Regions from separate parts of the Homo sapiens genome. Here region 2 is linked to region 1. A link means that fine-mapping ties the variant in region 1 to the expression of a gene that starts in the linked region. Tissue or cell type: whole blood. Region 1 holds a variant in brackets; the other region holds the start of a gene. All regions are shown on one strand. Distances are between the middles of the regions.

Region 1 (8,107 bases):
CCATGCCCAGCTAATTTTTAAATTTTTTGTAGAGATAGAGTCTCACCATGTTGCCTAGGCTGGTCTTGAACTCCTAGGCTCAAGCAATCTGCCTGCCTCAGTTTTCCAAAGTCCTGGGATTACAGGCATGAGCCACCATACCTGGCTATATTTTTTTTCTTTGGATATAAGAATTATGTTATAAAGTTACTTATAAATCAAGAAGTGATTTTTTTTCTTTTCCTTCTTGCATGAAGATTGAATTATATGTTAAGATAATAATCTAAAATTATGTTTAAAAAGCAGTTTGTAGAAATTTATCTAAAATTTATCTTAGAAAGTGGGGTAAGGTGCCTCATGCTTATAATCTCAGCGCTTTGGGAGGCCAAGGTGAGAAGGTCACTTGAGCCCAGGAGTTCAAGACCAGCCTGGGCAACAAAGTGAGACCTTGTCTCTACAAAAAAAAAAAAAAAATCAGATTAGCTGGACATAGTGGTGCATGCCTGTGGTCCCGGCTACTAGGGAGGCTGAGGCAGGAGGATTGCTTGAGTCCAGGAGGTCAAGGCTGCAGTGAGCCATGTTTACGTCAGTACACTCCAGCCTAGATGACAGAGTGAAACTCTGTCTTAAAAGTAAATTAATAAATAAACAAAATTTATCTGAGAAGAAAAATGAAAACAGTAGTTTGTGATCAACCTTATGGGGCTTAAATTTGAAAAGAACAAAAAAGTATTATCTATAAAGTGAATATATTATAGATATATATTCTATATATCTGCCATGAGTTAACTATATATATGTAACAATATATATTGCCATGCAATATAAATTGTTGCATGGCAACAATAATATAACATTATTCCAACAATGTATATAACAATATATATTGCCATGAGTAACAATAAACCAACAATGTACTTTGTTTGTTTTTTGAGGCACGGTCTCACTCTGTCACCCAGGCTGGAGTGCAGTGGTGCAATCTTGGCTCACTGCAACCTCTGCCTCCCAGGTTCAAGTGATTCTCCTGCCTCAGCCTCCCAAGTAGCTGAGATTACAGGTGACCGCCACCACACCCAGCTGATTTTTCTATTTTTTTTTAGTAGAGATGGGGTTTCACCATGTTGGCCAGGCTGGTCTCAAACTCCTGACCTCAAGTGATCCACCTGCCTTCGGCCTCCCAAAGTGCTGGGATTGCAGGTGTGAGCCACTGTGCCTGGCCTGTTTGTTTGTTTTTTATTTTTATTTTTATTTTTTTTGAGATGGAGTCCCACTCTGTCGCCCAGGCTGGAGTGCAATGGTGCAGGCTCGGCTTACTGCAACCTCCACCTCCCAGGTTTAAACGATTCTCTTGCTTCAGCCTCCTGAGTAGCTGAGATTACAGATGCGTGCTACCATGCCTGGCTAATTTTTTTTAATATTTTTAGTAGAGACGGGGTTTCACCATGTTGGTCAGGCTAGTCTCAAACTCCTGACCTCAAATGATCCGCCTGCCTTGGCCTCCCAAACTGCTGGGATTACAGGCGTGAGCCACTGCACCAGGCCTAACAATGTACTTTGAAATAATTTTAGGTAACTATATATGGTATCCTCTAATTTCTTGTCATATAGTTGTTTTTCCATCTTGTTTTATCATAAATCTGATTTTGGAAAATAAAAAATAATATTTAAACACTAAATCCAAGAATAAATCTCTCTTGGTAGATCACCAAAGCAGATACTTTAAAACAGTGGGTTAAAACTGTTCCAGGATTGTGTTTTCTACTACTAAAGGGATGTAATAACCTTTGAGTCACACTAGTCCAGCCTTCTTTCTTATGATTCTCATCCCAAAGTAGGCTTAACATGAGACAGAATTTATTTTGGATGAGTACTGAGCCAAAACAGTATCACGAAACGGCATTCTATAGAATGGGAAAATATTTGTAAATTATATATCTGATAAAAGATTCTTATCCAGAATACATAAAGAACTCCTACAACTCAACAACAAAAAACAAGCTGACTAAAAAAATGAGCAAAGGATTTAGACATTTCTCTAAGAAGGTATATAGGCGAGGCACAGTGGCTCATGTCTGTAATCCCAGCACTTTGGGAGGCTGAGGTGAAAGGATGGCGTGAACCCAGGAGTTTGAGACCAGCCTGGGCAATATAGTGAGACCTCATCTCTACAAAAATTTTTAAAATTAGCTGAGCGTGGTAATGCATGCCAGTAGTCACAGCTACTTGTGAGACTGAGATGAGAGGATCACTTGAGCCCAGGAATTAGAGGCTGTAATAAACTGAGATCACACCACGGCACTCCAGCCTGGGCAAGAGAGCAAGACCTTATCTCAGAAAATAATCTATGTCTGTCCTTTTTTACTAAGGACATGTTAACTCTCTCATTTTAGAACTGGTTTATTCAAAGGCAAGTAATGTTCTCTTACTCTCCTAACTCCCTGGTCATTCCTTGGAAATTTAGTAATGGAAAGAATAAAAATTATTCTCTCTCAAGAGGAATTAATTTAGTTTAAAGCTTAACAGGAAAACTTAGTAATAACTTCAATGAGGTTCATTGAGGAAGATCAACCAGTATTTCAATATGAAACAATTGAGTTTATAGGTAATATTTTTTTACCTTTTACTTTGAAAAACAGAAAAAAGTTACAGAAATAGTGGTGAGCACCCTTCACCTGGACTCACTTTTTTTTTCTTTTTTTTTTTTGAGACAGAGTCTCACTGTATCGCCCAGGCTGGAGTGCAGTGGTGATCTCGGCTCACTACAACCCCCACCTCCTGGGTTCAAGCAATTCTCCCACATCAGCCTCCCAAGTAGCTGGGATTACAGGTGCACACCACCACGCCATTCTAATTTTTGTATTGTTTGATAGAGACTGGGTTTCATCATGTTGGCCAGGCTGGTCTCAAACTCCTGATTTCAGGTGATCCTCCTGCCTCAGCCTCCCAAAGTGCTGGGATTACAGGTGTGAGTCATTGCGCCTGGCTACCAGTTGTTAACATTATGCAACATTTGCTTGTTATCATTCCTGTTTTTTTTAGACAGAGTCTCACTCTTGTCGCCCAGGCTGGAGTGCAGTGGCCCATTCATGGCTTACTGCAGCCTTGACTTCCCAGGCTCAATCAATCCTCCCATCTCAGCTTCCCGAGTAGCTAGAACTACAAGAGCATGCCACCATACCCAGCTAATTTTTGTTTTTTTATTTTTTGTAGAGAAGGGGTTTTGTCATGTTGCCCAGGCTTGCTTTGTCATTCTTTTTGTGTGTGTGTGAGTATATTCATAACATAAAGAGCTTGCAATCTCTATTGAAAGAAATCTCTCAACTCTTAAAAAAGACCATAAAGAGGATTTTACTACATATTTACTTTTTCAGTACTGACATATGATTCAGGTACATATGAAAGAAAGTTAATAACAGTTAACTTTCTTATGTGTTTTTTTTTAAAGTTAGTGTTTTTTTTAAAAAAGCACGTAAAGAAATATGATCACGGGTTTTTTGTTTGTTTTGGGGTTTTTAGGTTATTTCTTTTTAGAGAGGGAGTCTCGCTATGTTGCCCAAGCTGATCTCAAACTTCTGGCCTCAAGTGATCCTCCTGCCTTGACCTTCCAAAGTGGAGAGATTACAGGCATGAGCCCGTGTGCCCAGCCTAGTCATAGGTTTTAATGGATTTAATTTCCCACCAAATTACCAACTCCACTCTTATGAAAATCTAGAGAGTTTATTACTAATAAAAAAGAATTGATTACATGTTTTATTTCACACCTAGACTGAACTCCTAGTACAGTGAATTAGAGACAAATTCATAATTTATTGAAATTCCCCTTGCTGTGGGCACATATGTCCATAGTAGATGTAGCATTTGGTAGGAGTTTCAAGAAAAGCAGGGTAAATATTTCAGTGAATTCTCATACAGAGTTAAGAAAAAACTTACATGAAATATAAAATCTTAGACAGGATACACTTATAGACAACTAAGGATAATGATGAGTATCAGGTAGCAAGGAATATATTCTTCAGCTAGGTTCATAAGATATTACCCATTAAAGCTAGGCGCGGTGGGTCATGCTTGTAATCCTAGCACTTTAGGAGGCCAAGGAAGGTGGATTGCTGGAGCTCAGGAATTTGAGACCAGCCTGGGCAACATGGCCAAACCCCATCTCTACAAAAAATTCAAAA[A/G]TTAGCTGGATGTGGTGGCAATGCCTGTAGTCCAAGCTACTCAGGGGTTGGGGGGTTAAGGCAGGAGGATCGCTTGAACCCGGGACATCGAGGATGCAGTGAGCCGAGATCGTGCCACTGCATTCCAGCCTAGTTGACAAAGTGAGACTTTATCTCAAAGAAAAAGAAAAGATATTACCCATTAATAAACAATCACTTTTATTTTTAATTTTAAGCATATGTAGCAAGGGTATCTTTTCTCTTTGACCTCTTTTCCAGAGTACACTCATTTCATTTTATTTCTTAAACTCAGTAGTTATCCAGTTTGTTTTCAACATAGAAAGAATCCCTTTCAACTCAGTGGTCATCAGATTTAGACACAGACCAGTGTTTTGCGTAGCTGTGTCTGGTGTCATGGTAGAGCCACGGGGTATTAGTGTAGCAAAAAAGCAGAGACTTTGGGGTCAGAGCTCCTGGGTTTGGATATAAACTCTCCTATTTATATTGGGCAAATTACTTAATTTCTCTGTGCCTCATTTCCTTCATCTGTAACATATGATTATAGTACCTCGTGTTACAGAGTTGTAATAAAAATTAAATAAGCTAATGCATAAAAGAGCGTGCACAGAGCAGAGCTCAAAAAACATTCATTATTGGTCTAAATACTTAACAAAATCATACAGTAGTCATTTATTCCAGTTACTTCTGACAACCACCTAGTGGATACCTACCACATGCAGGTAAACTGAAAAGGAATAAAACGTGTCCCTAGGCATTAAGATGTTTACAATTTAGTGAAGAAAATAGATGTCAAACAAATAATTACAATATTATAAGAGCCTAATAGAGGTAGTACTATGAGATCAATGAAGCAGGAGTTACTAGCTCTGCTTAGGGAAGGCAGAAAAAAATTCCTATTGATTTTTCCTTTGTTCAGTGGAGTAAAAAAAAATACATAATGGTTTTGGGTATTCGTCCTACTGAGAGAGAGAACAGTGTGTGCGCGGGTGTGTGTGTCCTTATTTATTTGCGGGAGTCATGAAAGACAAATGCTTAGGAACTCTCCAGAATAAAAGAGACAATAGAAACATGACAATTTAGTGCTTCACTGACCAGTTCCTGTTTTGGGGGAAAATATTACCTTAAAGGATGTTATTAAAACAGTTGGCAAAATTGGAATATACACTATAGATTAGATTATGCAGTAGATTACTCGGTGTTAAATTTCCTGAAGTTGATCACTATACTGTGATTCTGTAAAAGAAAATCCTTGTTGTAAGATGAGCTATGAGAAATATTAAAGGAGTAAAGGAGAATGATACTATTTGAGAGTAATTTGTGATACATTTGACTTTTCCTTATATTCCAAAAACTACTGCAAAACCATTCAGCCGTAGTCCCCCTTCCTCTGGAAGGAACTGAGTGGATAGTATCACAACTACTAAAAAAACGATCTGCACACACTGGCACACAGAATGATGAAGCATGTGACAAAATGTTAAAAATTGGTGATTCAGAGTATTACAGGAGTTATTTGTGTTACTTTTACAACTTTTCTATAAATTTGATATTTCAAAAGAAAAAATTTAAGAGGGAAAAGGCATAATCAGAAGGCATCTTCAAGAGGAAGCATTTCAACTGTATCCTAGTGGCTAAATTCACCGGGTGGATAAGGAGGTCAGAGACTGTTGTGTAGAAAGCGAATGGGGGCATGAAAGTACATTACTTGTTTGCACATAGTTCAGTACAGTAATTTTTCTTTTCTTTTTCTTTCTTTTTTTTTTTTGGAGACAGAATCTCGCCTTATCACCCAGGCTGGAGTGCAGTGGTGCTATCTTGGCTTACTGCAATCTCCACCTCCTAGGTTCAAGTGATTCTCATGCCTCAGCCTCCTGAGTAGCTGGGATTACAGGCATGCACCACCACGTCCAGCTAATTTTTTTTTGTATTTTTTATTTTTATTTTCATTTTTTTGCGGGGGACAGAGTCTCACTCTGTCACCCAGACTGGAGTGTAATGGCACAATCTCAGCTCACTGTATTCTCTACCTCCCATGCTTAGGTCATCCTCTCACCTCAGCCTCCCAAATAGCTGGGACTACATGTGCACATCACCACGCCCGGCTAATTTTTGTATTTTTTGTAGAGACAAGGTTTCTCCGTGTGGTCAGGCTGGTCTTGAACTCCTGGGCTCAAGTGATCTGCCCGCCTTGGCCTCCCAGTATGTTGGGATTACAAGTGTGAGCCACCTTGCCTGGCCCAGTAATTTCTGTGTAAGATGTTTGGAACACATTCTTTTAAGTATCTGTAGAATATTAGTTGGATATTCATTAATATGATGTTTATCAAATCTCACTGCTGAAAATTCAAGAAATATTTAGCAAATTATCAGATTATTATGCCAAACAGAGCCGTTGTTTAATATACTTCCATTACCAGGAAATCCCACTCTAAATATCCTCAATTTTGTTCTCCTTTACAGCTTATAATTATTACATGGTTATTTAAAAATGACACGTGGAAGAGTTTGAGCAGCCTTAAGACCAAGTAGACAATGAAAATCATACCTTTTTGGTAGGATATCACTACTGGTGATAATTTAGATATTTGGATAAACAAAAACAAGAATAAAACAGTTCTAATTAAGTGTTTGATGTCATCAACATTCATATTTATTAAAGAAATATTTTAGAGTGGAGCTGAGAAGACTTTCTGTAAGAAATCTTTAAAGCAGCAAAATAAGTGATTTTGCCAGTAACTTTCACCTGTAGAAGTCAGAATAACCAAGCACAGATCTTTTTTCAAACTTTCTATGATATTTTGACTTTGCTTCCATCCTTTCTATTGCTTAGTCTAGAGATTAAGGTATTACTTCTAATAATAGTCATTTACATTATTTATGTTGCTAATCTCTTGATGACAAGACCTCTACATGTGTCTTGAAATAAAATCAAATGGCTCTGTGCTTCATATAGAGACTAATTTCTAAGACATAAATAAAAGGTAATGGACAAAGTTGTCAAACAATAGCCAGTTAGTTCTTTGCTGAGGAAAGGGAACCATTGCTGAATGCTTTTGAGATTGCTCTTGGAATATAAGGAAAATTTTAATTTATCACAAAATCTCTAATAAGTTAAAGATCACAAAATAGATTTAAGTTTTTAAAAATTTTCTGAAGTGATCATAATTCCCCATATCCTTGCATAAATATATATTTATAAATACATAATATATATAATATCTATATGATGTTCCACTTTGAACTCTTCTTTCAAAAGATTAAAACAGTTTGAGGGCAGCCTGGGCAGCATAGTGAGACCCCATCTCTACAGAAAAATTAAAAAAAAAAATTAGCCAAGCATGGTGGCACACATCTGTAGTTCTAGCTACTTGGGAGGCTGAGATGGAAGGATCACTTGAGTCCAGGAGGTTGAGGCAAGGCTGCAGTGAGCCATGATCACCTCACCGTATTCCAGTTTGGGTGACAGAGTGAGACCCTGTCTCAAAAAAAAAAAAAAAAATCAAAACATTGGAGCACAATACAATACAATCTGAATTATTTATTATAAGTAAATTTGCTTTCTTTCTGAGAGTGAAATACAAGAGAACATTTTGGGGCAAATGAAATAGAACCAGAGTTTTAGAGATTAATAAGTCAGTTTCTAAATCTTCTAAAGATTGAGATAGAATTAATTTTCATGGTTTCTTGACATTTCATATTGTAAAAAATAGCAGTGGAATCCTTTGAGAGATGCTGTTTACGGAAAAGTTTATGATAGATTGAAGTGTTAAAAGTTAGTACCCTTGATTATGTTATATAACAAAGATTTGTAAACTTGAAATTGCTAAAACAAAGTAATCATTAGAGAATATGAAATAGTTTATAGTTACTTATTTTCTCTATTCATAGTTGCTAATGAATAAAAGTAAGTTGTAAGCTTCATGCTTTAGGTGTTTTAAACTTTTTAAATATGT
Region 2 (8,107 bases), 65 kb before region 1:
ATATGGTTTGGCTGTGTCCCCACCGAAATCTCATCTTGAATTGTAGTTCCTATAATCCCCAAGTGTCATGGGAGGGACCCGGTAGGATGTGATTGAATCATGGGGGCGATTACTCCCATGCTGCAGTTCTCATGATAGTGAGTTCTCACAAAATCTGATGGTTTTATAAGGGCCTTTTCCCACTTTTGCTCAGCACTTCTCCTTGCTGCCGCTATGTGAAGAAGGACATGTTTGCTTCCCCTTCCACCATGATTGTAAAGTTTCCTGAGGCCTCCCCAGCCCTGTGGAATTGTGAGTTGTTTAAACCTCTTTCCTTTATAAATTACCCAGTATTGGGTATGTCTTTATTGGCAGCATGCGAACAGACCAATACGGTAAATGCAGAGAAATTATTTGAGTCAAATGCTTATATAATAAAATGCTGCATTCCTTATATATATATATATATATATATATGAGGAACCATACTTGCAGTACTATACATCCTGCACTTTTCATTTTGCAGCATATCTTAGATAATGTTCCACAGAGGCCTGGTTATTTTAAAATAACTTTATAGGTTCCACTGTATGGATTTACTATTATTTATTGAACTAGTCCCCTATTCCTACTGATGATTATTTAAACTGTTTATTTCTAGGGCGTTTTTTGTTTTGCTTTACTTCTGGTATAATAAACAACACTGCAATGAATAACCTTGTCTCTAAGTGACTTCATGTAAGAGCAAGTATATCTACAGGACATATTCCTAGAATTTGCTAGGTCAAAGAGAAACTTTGATATTATCTAGTTCCCCTTGACAGAAGTTGAAACAATTTATAGTCCTAATACACTTACAATATATTAGAATGCTTGTTTCCTCATATCTTCACCATCATAGTGTGTAATCAAACTTTTTCATCTGTGCTATTCTAATAGGTGAAAAATGATAACAGTATAACCCCCAAAAGAGAATTATCTTTTTCTCCACATCCTCAACAGCATTTGTTATTATCTGTCTTTTGGATATAGGCCATTTTAACTGGGGTGAGATGATATCTTATTGTAGTTTTGATCTGCATTTCTCTAATGATCAATGATGTTGAGCACCTTGTCATATCCCATTTGCCATTTGTATGTCTTCTTTTTTCTTTTTTTGTTTTAAATTTTTTAAAAAGTTTTTTTATAGAGATGGGGTCTCATTATGTTGCCCAGGCTCGTCTTCAATTCCTGGGCTCAAGGGATCCTCCTGCCTCGGCCTCCCAAAGTGCTGGGATTACAGGTGTTGAGCCACTGTGCCTGGCCCCTTTGTTTTTCTTATTGAATTTTAGCCTTTTAATTTGTAGGAGCTCTTTTATATTTTACTGAAATTAACTACAAAAATGAATTGCACCAGCTTGGGCAACATGGTGAGACCCTGTCTCTACCAAAAATACAAAAAATTAGCCGGGCATGGTGACACGTGCCTGTGATTCCAGCTACTCGGGAGGCTGAAGTGGGAGGATCACTTGAGCCCAGGAGGCGGAGGTTGCAGTGACCCAAGATCATGCCGCTGCACTGCAATCCAGCCTGAGTTAGAGTAAGACCCCATCTCAAACAAACAAACAAACAAACAAAAAACCCACAAAAATGAGTTGCTGCTATTTTTTCCAGTTTGTCATTTTCCTTTTGGCTTATCTGGTGATTTTTTTTGCCCTTTTTTTTTTTTTTTTTTTTTTTTTTTAAAGAGACAGGGTCTTACTGTGTTGCCCAGGCTGGTCTTCAACTCCTGGCCTCAAGCTATGCTTCTACCTCGGCCACTGGAGTTGTTGGGATTACAGGCATGTACCACCATGCCCGGCTCATACATTTATAAAAATTGAATTTATCGGTCTTTTAGATCTTGTGTCATAGTGAAAGTGTCTTTTTCCGTTCTGAGGTTATAAATGAATCATTGTATGGTTTTATTGTTTACATTTAAATCTTTGACATATCTGGAGTTTTTGCTAGTGTATTGTATAGGGTATGGATCCAACATTTTTTCTAGATAGCCCATTTGTCTGAATGAGAAACTTTTTTTTTTTTGAGACGGAGTCTTGCTCTTGTTGCCCAGGCTAGAGTGCAATGGCGTGATCTAGCTCACCACAACCTCCACCTTCCGTGTTCAAGCGATTCTCCTGACTCAGCCTCCCGTGTAGCTAAGAATTACAGGCATGCGCCACCTTGCCCAGCTAGTTTTGTTATTTTTAGTAGAGAGGGGGTTTTTCCATGTTGGTCAGGCTGGTCTCAAACTCCCGACCTCAGGTGATCCACCCGCCTCGGCCTCCCAAAGTGCTGGAATTGCAGGTGTGAGCCACCTCGCCCGGCCCTGAATGGGAAACTTTTTACTGCTGTCATTCTTGGACTATCCTCCACATGCACGTGGATCATATTTCTGTTTGCTCAGCCCAGACATCAGAACTCAGATGCCTGTAGAGACTAGGCAAGTTACATAAAAGGGTGAAGAGTGCCAGGTGGGAAGTATAGCCAACTGGAAATGGATGGCATATTTTTATAAAGAGGGCAGCCACTACCCGGTGCCTGCTGATTACTCTCTTGCACGAATGCAGTAGGTCCCAGTGTTGCCAGATCTTTGTCAAGAGAAGCTGAAAATATACATTTTTATATGAAGCCTCTTGATTTTAAAATGTTAACAATTAAATTTAAATACAGCCTTAGCTAAACAAAATATGTCTTCAGGCCTGACTTGGCCCAGAAAAGCCTTCTGATATTCCTAGCCAAGAATGAGATTTCTAACAAGTTTACTCTCCTATGAGTAAAGAGAACATACATGGTCTAGTAGTTTGACATCACAGTAGTTTATAGCTGGAGTCTGGGAACAGGAGAGAAAAGTAAGGACCCTCTATATAAGCCAAAGTCTTCGCTCTCACAGACTGAAACATTAATGGGAGAAATACAAGCATTTTACCATCCCACCTTTTATCCCAAGTACATGTGAATGGATATGGCCATTTATTAGAGGATGTTCTTGATTTAGTGGATACTTTAGTGGATTAGAAAAATAATCTTATTTTCCAACTCTGCCATTCTGATTTTGCCCAAATGAAAAAGTGGTGCATGTTTTGGGGAGAATAATTGCTCAGCTACTGATGCCGGAACTGAATTGTAGTACTGACTTATTTTTTGTACCCTGTTCGTCTTTTCCCTTTCTCACTGCTGGTGGCTAGGGACAGGGAGTAAAATATCTTCTTTACAACCTGTTAAAAGTAATGTGCTCAGCCTCTTTAGTGGGATGAAATTTGTGGTAATGAGTTACCAGAGCCTATGCCTCTTTGGATTGAAAAGCTTGTCAGGATCTTTTCTGGGTTGCTAATGAGTGTTTCCTAGACGCCGATCCAGGTTTTGTAGGACCTGAAGCCTACACAATTTGGATGACACGATTAAGAAAACAATTCGAAAATATCTTGAAAGTTTTGTAAAAACGATATGATTTTGTGAACGCACAGGGGCCCGTGCAAGTGAAGGACCTTTCAATTCAAGCTTGATCAACGTCACTGTCATCTGCCCCTTCTGACCCTACCACCAGGCTAAGGGCTTTCCACGCCTCATCTCTCGGTCCCCACACCATCACCCTAAGAAATAGTTACTGTATCTCCTAACGATATATTATATATAGTACCTACTTTGTGTAAACATACGGTACTCATGAAAACAAGCCACGTAGAGCACAAATACGTTAAATATCCTGTCCAGCCCGAATGCCCCTTTCTCTCCACGTCCCTATGCAGCCTCCCACGACGGTAGTCCTGGGGCTCCAGCGCTACAAGAGTGGCACCGAGTCCGGATTGTCTTAAGCAGGTCGAGAGGAGGGAGCATATGGGTAAAAAGCAGTCAAACTGAAGAGTCTGGAGCGGCCCCCAGCACAGTCTCGGGAAAAGCGGACTCCCCCGGGGCCCCAGGCCCCGCACCCCCGCGCCGGGCTGGCGCCTGTGCCTGCTCCGCGGCGCGCATGCTCCGTGTTAGGCCTCTTGGGCTATTCGGGATAATGAGCGCCGGGCCGAGGGGGCGGGCCGAGCCTCGGCTGCTGGGACTCAGGGCTCAGCGGCGACCCCAAGGCACTCTGCGCTGCTGCTAAAGGGGCAGCAACGGCGGCCAGCGCTGTGCGCGCCATAGCGAGGCTCGCTCGCCCGACGCGCACTCCGGGTCGGTCCCCAGAGCTCTGTGGAGGTGACTCGAGTGGGCAGGGCCGGGCGGCGCTGTCGGCTGGGAGGGCGGGGAGGAGGCGATGAGGAGACGAGCAGCCGCCGCCGCCGCCGCCGCTGCTCACCGCCCGCCGCGGCCGTAGCGGGAGTCGGGGCGGGGCTGGGCCAGCTGTACCCCTGACGGGCCGCGAACCCAGACAAAGGAGGAGGAGCCGCCCCAGAAGCGGGCCAGCGCCGCCGGGAAAGGAGGTCGCCGCCCGGGGTCGCCCGGGCTTGCGGGTCGCCGCGCTTCCTCTGCGGGCGCTGCGGGAGGCGAGGGCCGCCTCGGCGGAGGAAGCCGACCCCGGGGTCTCCGCCAGCCCGCCGGCGCCGCCTCCGAGCCGCCTCGGCCGTAGCCTCGGCCCGGGCGGGAGGCGGCGGCCGCCGGCGAGGCGAGGCGGCCCGCGCCCTGCCTGTCAGGCCACCGGCCCGGCCCGCGGGCTGCCCCCGATGCGGAGGCGCTGTCGCCGGGGCCATGCAGCAGGCGCCGCAGCCTTACGAGTTCTTCAGCGAGGAGAACAGTCCGAAATGGCGGGGACTGTTGGTCTCGGCCCTGCGGAAGGTCAGTGCTAGGGGCGGGGCGGCCGGCGGGTGGCCCGTGGCCCCCCGAGCTTCTAACGGGGAGCAGGTCGTCCCTCCCACAGGGCTCGAGTCCCCGGGGCCGAGCCGTTTCTCGTTGGCTGGCAATGGGGGGCTCACAATTGCCTGTTGCATTCTGAAGGACGTTTCTCAAGTTTTTTTTTTTTGCCTGGTCCCGGAAGGAAGGTTTTGTTATGATCATAAAACTGGATTTCATGTTGCAGTCATTTCGTCAGGCAACTTCCGCCGTTGACCAATTTGTTGTCCTCAGGCTGGAATCGGGCAAGAGAAAGTCCCGCTGGTATTTAGACAGTTTCTAAAACAAAAGCACATTTTCAGGCCGGGTAATTACTTTTAATTAAGTTCTTTGGGAGTGTTCCCCCTAGGCGGTTTGCTTGTCAAGGGTATCCACTTATGAGGCAATGGTTTTTTGTAATATGGATGTTTCACATGTGTGAAATGTCAGTGAGTCATAATATTCTTATTCATTTTACAGTTCTCAAGGTAAATTTAAAGCGCCTTCCCACTTCCTGCAAACGGTGTCTTACCTGTTTACAAGAGATTACCCTTAGAAAATTTGGTCAGTGTCTTCAGTGTCTTCACGACCAAATTGCGATTTAGGACTTGAAATCATTTTAAGGAACAAGAAAGGGGCAACTCCTGCAAATCAGTCTTTCATGTTTGGGTGCATTGCTAGGGTGCATCTTTCCTGTAGATGGTGGCGGTCTTCCTCTGTGAATTTAGGTAGTAACCATACGATCATTTTTATAATAAATCCTTCTGTAAGATCAAGACATTTAAAGACTGTGAATAGGTGCGTGATCAGCTGTCATGCCTGTTGAGCAGGGGCTTTCTTTCTTTGCCGTTAATGCAGACTTAGTCTCTTCTGCCTTTTGTGCAAAATAACCAAGAATACATTCTAAAATAAGGAAAAAATAAAGATTAATTTAAAAGACTATACTTGGAAAATATATCCTCAGACATTAAATTTCTATAAATGAAAGGAAGTAGTGTATTTTAAAGTTAAAGACATTTTCCTCATGCGATGAGAGTTGCAGATTTTCCCTTATTTTCATAATTCTTACAAGGAAGTATTGCTTTCCTCAGGGCAAACACTAAGTCGTATCTTTTTAAAGAACCTGGCAGAAATGACTAGTGGCAGCTAGACAGTTATTCCATTGGTATACCAAGTGCTAAAGTATTAAATTGACCTTACTTCCATGTGCAGCCCAATTCTGTAAGGAGAGGGAAAGAAATGAAAAGTGTGCTGAGTGGTGAAAATGAACTCTGGCCTGAATTAAAAGCAAAGGGGGAAATGCCTAGATAGTAATTAGCCCTTTGACCACAGACAAGTGTGAGTGCAGTAATCAGGTAGGCCTATATTGTTGGCAATGTGACGCAGGTATATACCCATTTATAACTTTCTGGTAGCAAATAGTATTTGGGTGTGTGTTGCATAACTTGTTCAATAGGTAGCTTTGATTCTAATAATCCTTTATGTCCAGAAACAGATTTATGTTTTCTTTTTCTTCAAATAGAGACAGGGTTATGCTATGTTGCCCAGGCTGGTCTTGAACTTCTGGCCTCAAGCAGTCCGCCCACCTCTGCCTTCCAAACTGTTGGGATTACAGGCATAAACCACCTCGCACCAGACCCAGATTTTTTTTTTTTTTTTTCAAGTTAGGCTGGAGAAGCCAAGATTAGCATCCAATCCTAGTCCATTGCTTTGGTGCTATTACTTTGCATTTATATTGTGCTTGTTTTCCTGGAACTCAGGTGCCTTGTAGATACTATGTTATATTCCACAGTTCTAGTATGTTCTTTATGAAATAAATACATCTAAGAAAATTTGGTCTTTTGAGGTGAATTCAGAAAACATTTTCTATTAACTTACTGTTGTGATAGAATTGAAATACATACGTATGGAAAATTTTTTTATATTTTTGGAAAAATTTTGGTAAAAGTAATTAAGATTATGTCCACTTTTATGGTATTTAGGACATTGCAACTTGTAGGTCTGTAGTGCCTGCTAAGAGCTGTAGCTCTTAGGGAGCTAAAGGTTCACTCTTTCTTTGCAGGAAGTTTTAAATTCTGGTATGCATCAGCCACCTTGTCTTTGTAAAATGAGAATTTCTACCATTTTGGGGGAGTCTCTGTCTTCACATTCAGAGCATCTAGAACTTGGCATCCTTCCTCTAGCTGACCAGATCGTTACAAAGACAACTAGGATTTGATTGGAATATCTCTCTCCTTCAATTGGTGTTGCCATTGTACATGTGGTGTATTCTAGCTTCATTAATTCACTTAACCATTATTGAACACATTTTACATACTTGACATGATGCGGGATCCTAAGAGTACAAAGTTAAAATAAAGGCCCCTCCAAAGATGTATACCATCTAAACCAAAAATTCTAAAATTTGAGGTTTTGGTTTATGTAAATGAGAGCGGTTCTGAGCTCAGAGTTCAGTAAGGGGTATTTGTGTGTCTATGAAAGCAGCAATGTAGCTTACTTGGCTCTGTCAGTTTAGTCCACTTGGACATCTTGGTGGAACCTCCAAAACTGTTAGAACGTAATTTTCAGAAAGGTAAAGTCATCACTTCCATGCAAATGTAAATGAACATGTATCAATTATTTTGATTCAGCCCATTGATGAGGGAACTAGTAAGATGTTAAAGTCACTTAATATGAAAATTTGAGGAGGTATTTATAGGCAATTTAATAAGGGAATATTAAGACTGTTGGGTTACATACAGAATTAGTTAATACCCTACAAGAAACATAAAAGAGTAGGCTTTGGGTTATATTTTCCTCTGGCTAAAAATTACTTGCATCTCAGTGGGCGTGGTGGCTCACACCTGTAATCCAGCACTCTGGGAGGCTGAGGCTGGTGGATCAACTGAGTTTAGGAGTTCGTGACCAGCCTGGCCAGCATGGTGAAACCCCGTCTCTACTAAAAAATACCAAAAATTAGCTGGGTGTGGTGGTGTGTGCCTGTAATCCCAGCTGCTCAGGAGGCTGAGGCAGGAGAATCACTTGAACCTGCTAGGCAGAGGTTGCAGTGAGCCGAGATCACACCACTGCACTCCATCCTGGGCGACAGAGCGAGACTCCATCTCAAAAAAAAAAAAAAAATTACTTGCATCTCTATCTGCTGAAAAGCTGTAACTTAATCTTATAGATGTGTAAAATAGTCAGTAGAAATTAATAAAAGATTCAAGCATAGCACTGTACTGAAACACAGCCAGTATTCTTTTGCTTATTTTCCAGTTTTGGCTAGTTTTTATGAAAACTGGATATCTATGTCTATATCCATGTATATATCCAT

Evidence for each region. PIP is the estimated chance that this variant, and not a neighbour inherited with it, causes the effect.
Region 2: SOS2 starts here. The variant in region 1 is fine-mapped to the expression of SOS2 in whole blood (INTERVAL, PIP above 0.99).

The regions. Positions count from the first base shown.
Region 1 is chr14:50,162,444-50,170,550 of GRCh38, reverse strand. The region is part of intron 8 of SOS2 (SOS Ras/Rho guanine nucleotide exchange factor 2); the gene reads left to right. Among named protein-coding and RNA genes, the nearest start is that of VCPKMT, 50 kb to the right of the region's middle. The variant A/G (reference allele first, on the strand shown) is at 4,155.
Region 2 is chr14:50,227,851-50,235,957 of GRCh38, reverse strand. It overlaps SOS2 (SOS Ras/Rho guanine nucleotide exchange factor 2), which reads left to right and starts at 4,380. Exons shown (of 23, transcript NM_006939.4): 1 at 4,380-4,761. The coding sequence starts at 4,675. RefSeq lists an enhancer at 3,469-3,558 and a silencer at 3,709-4,788.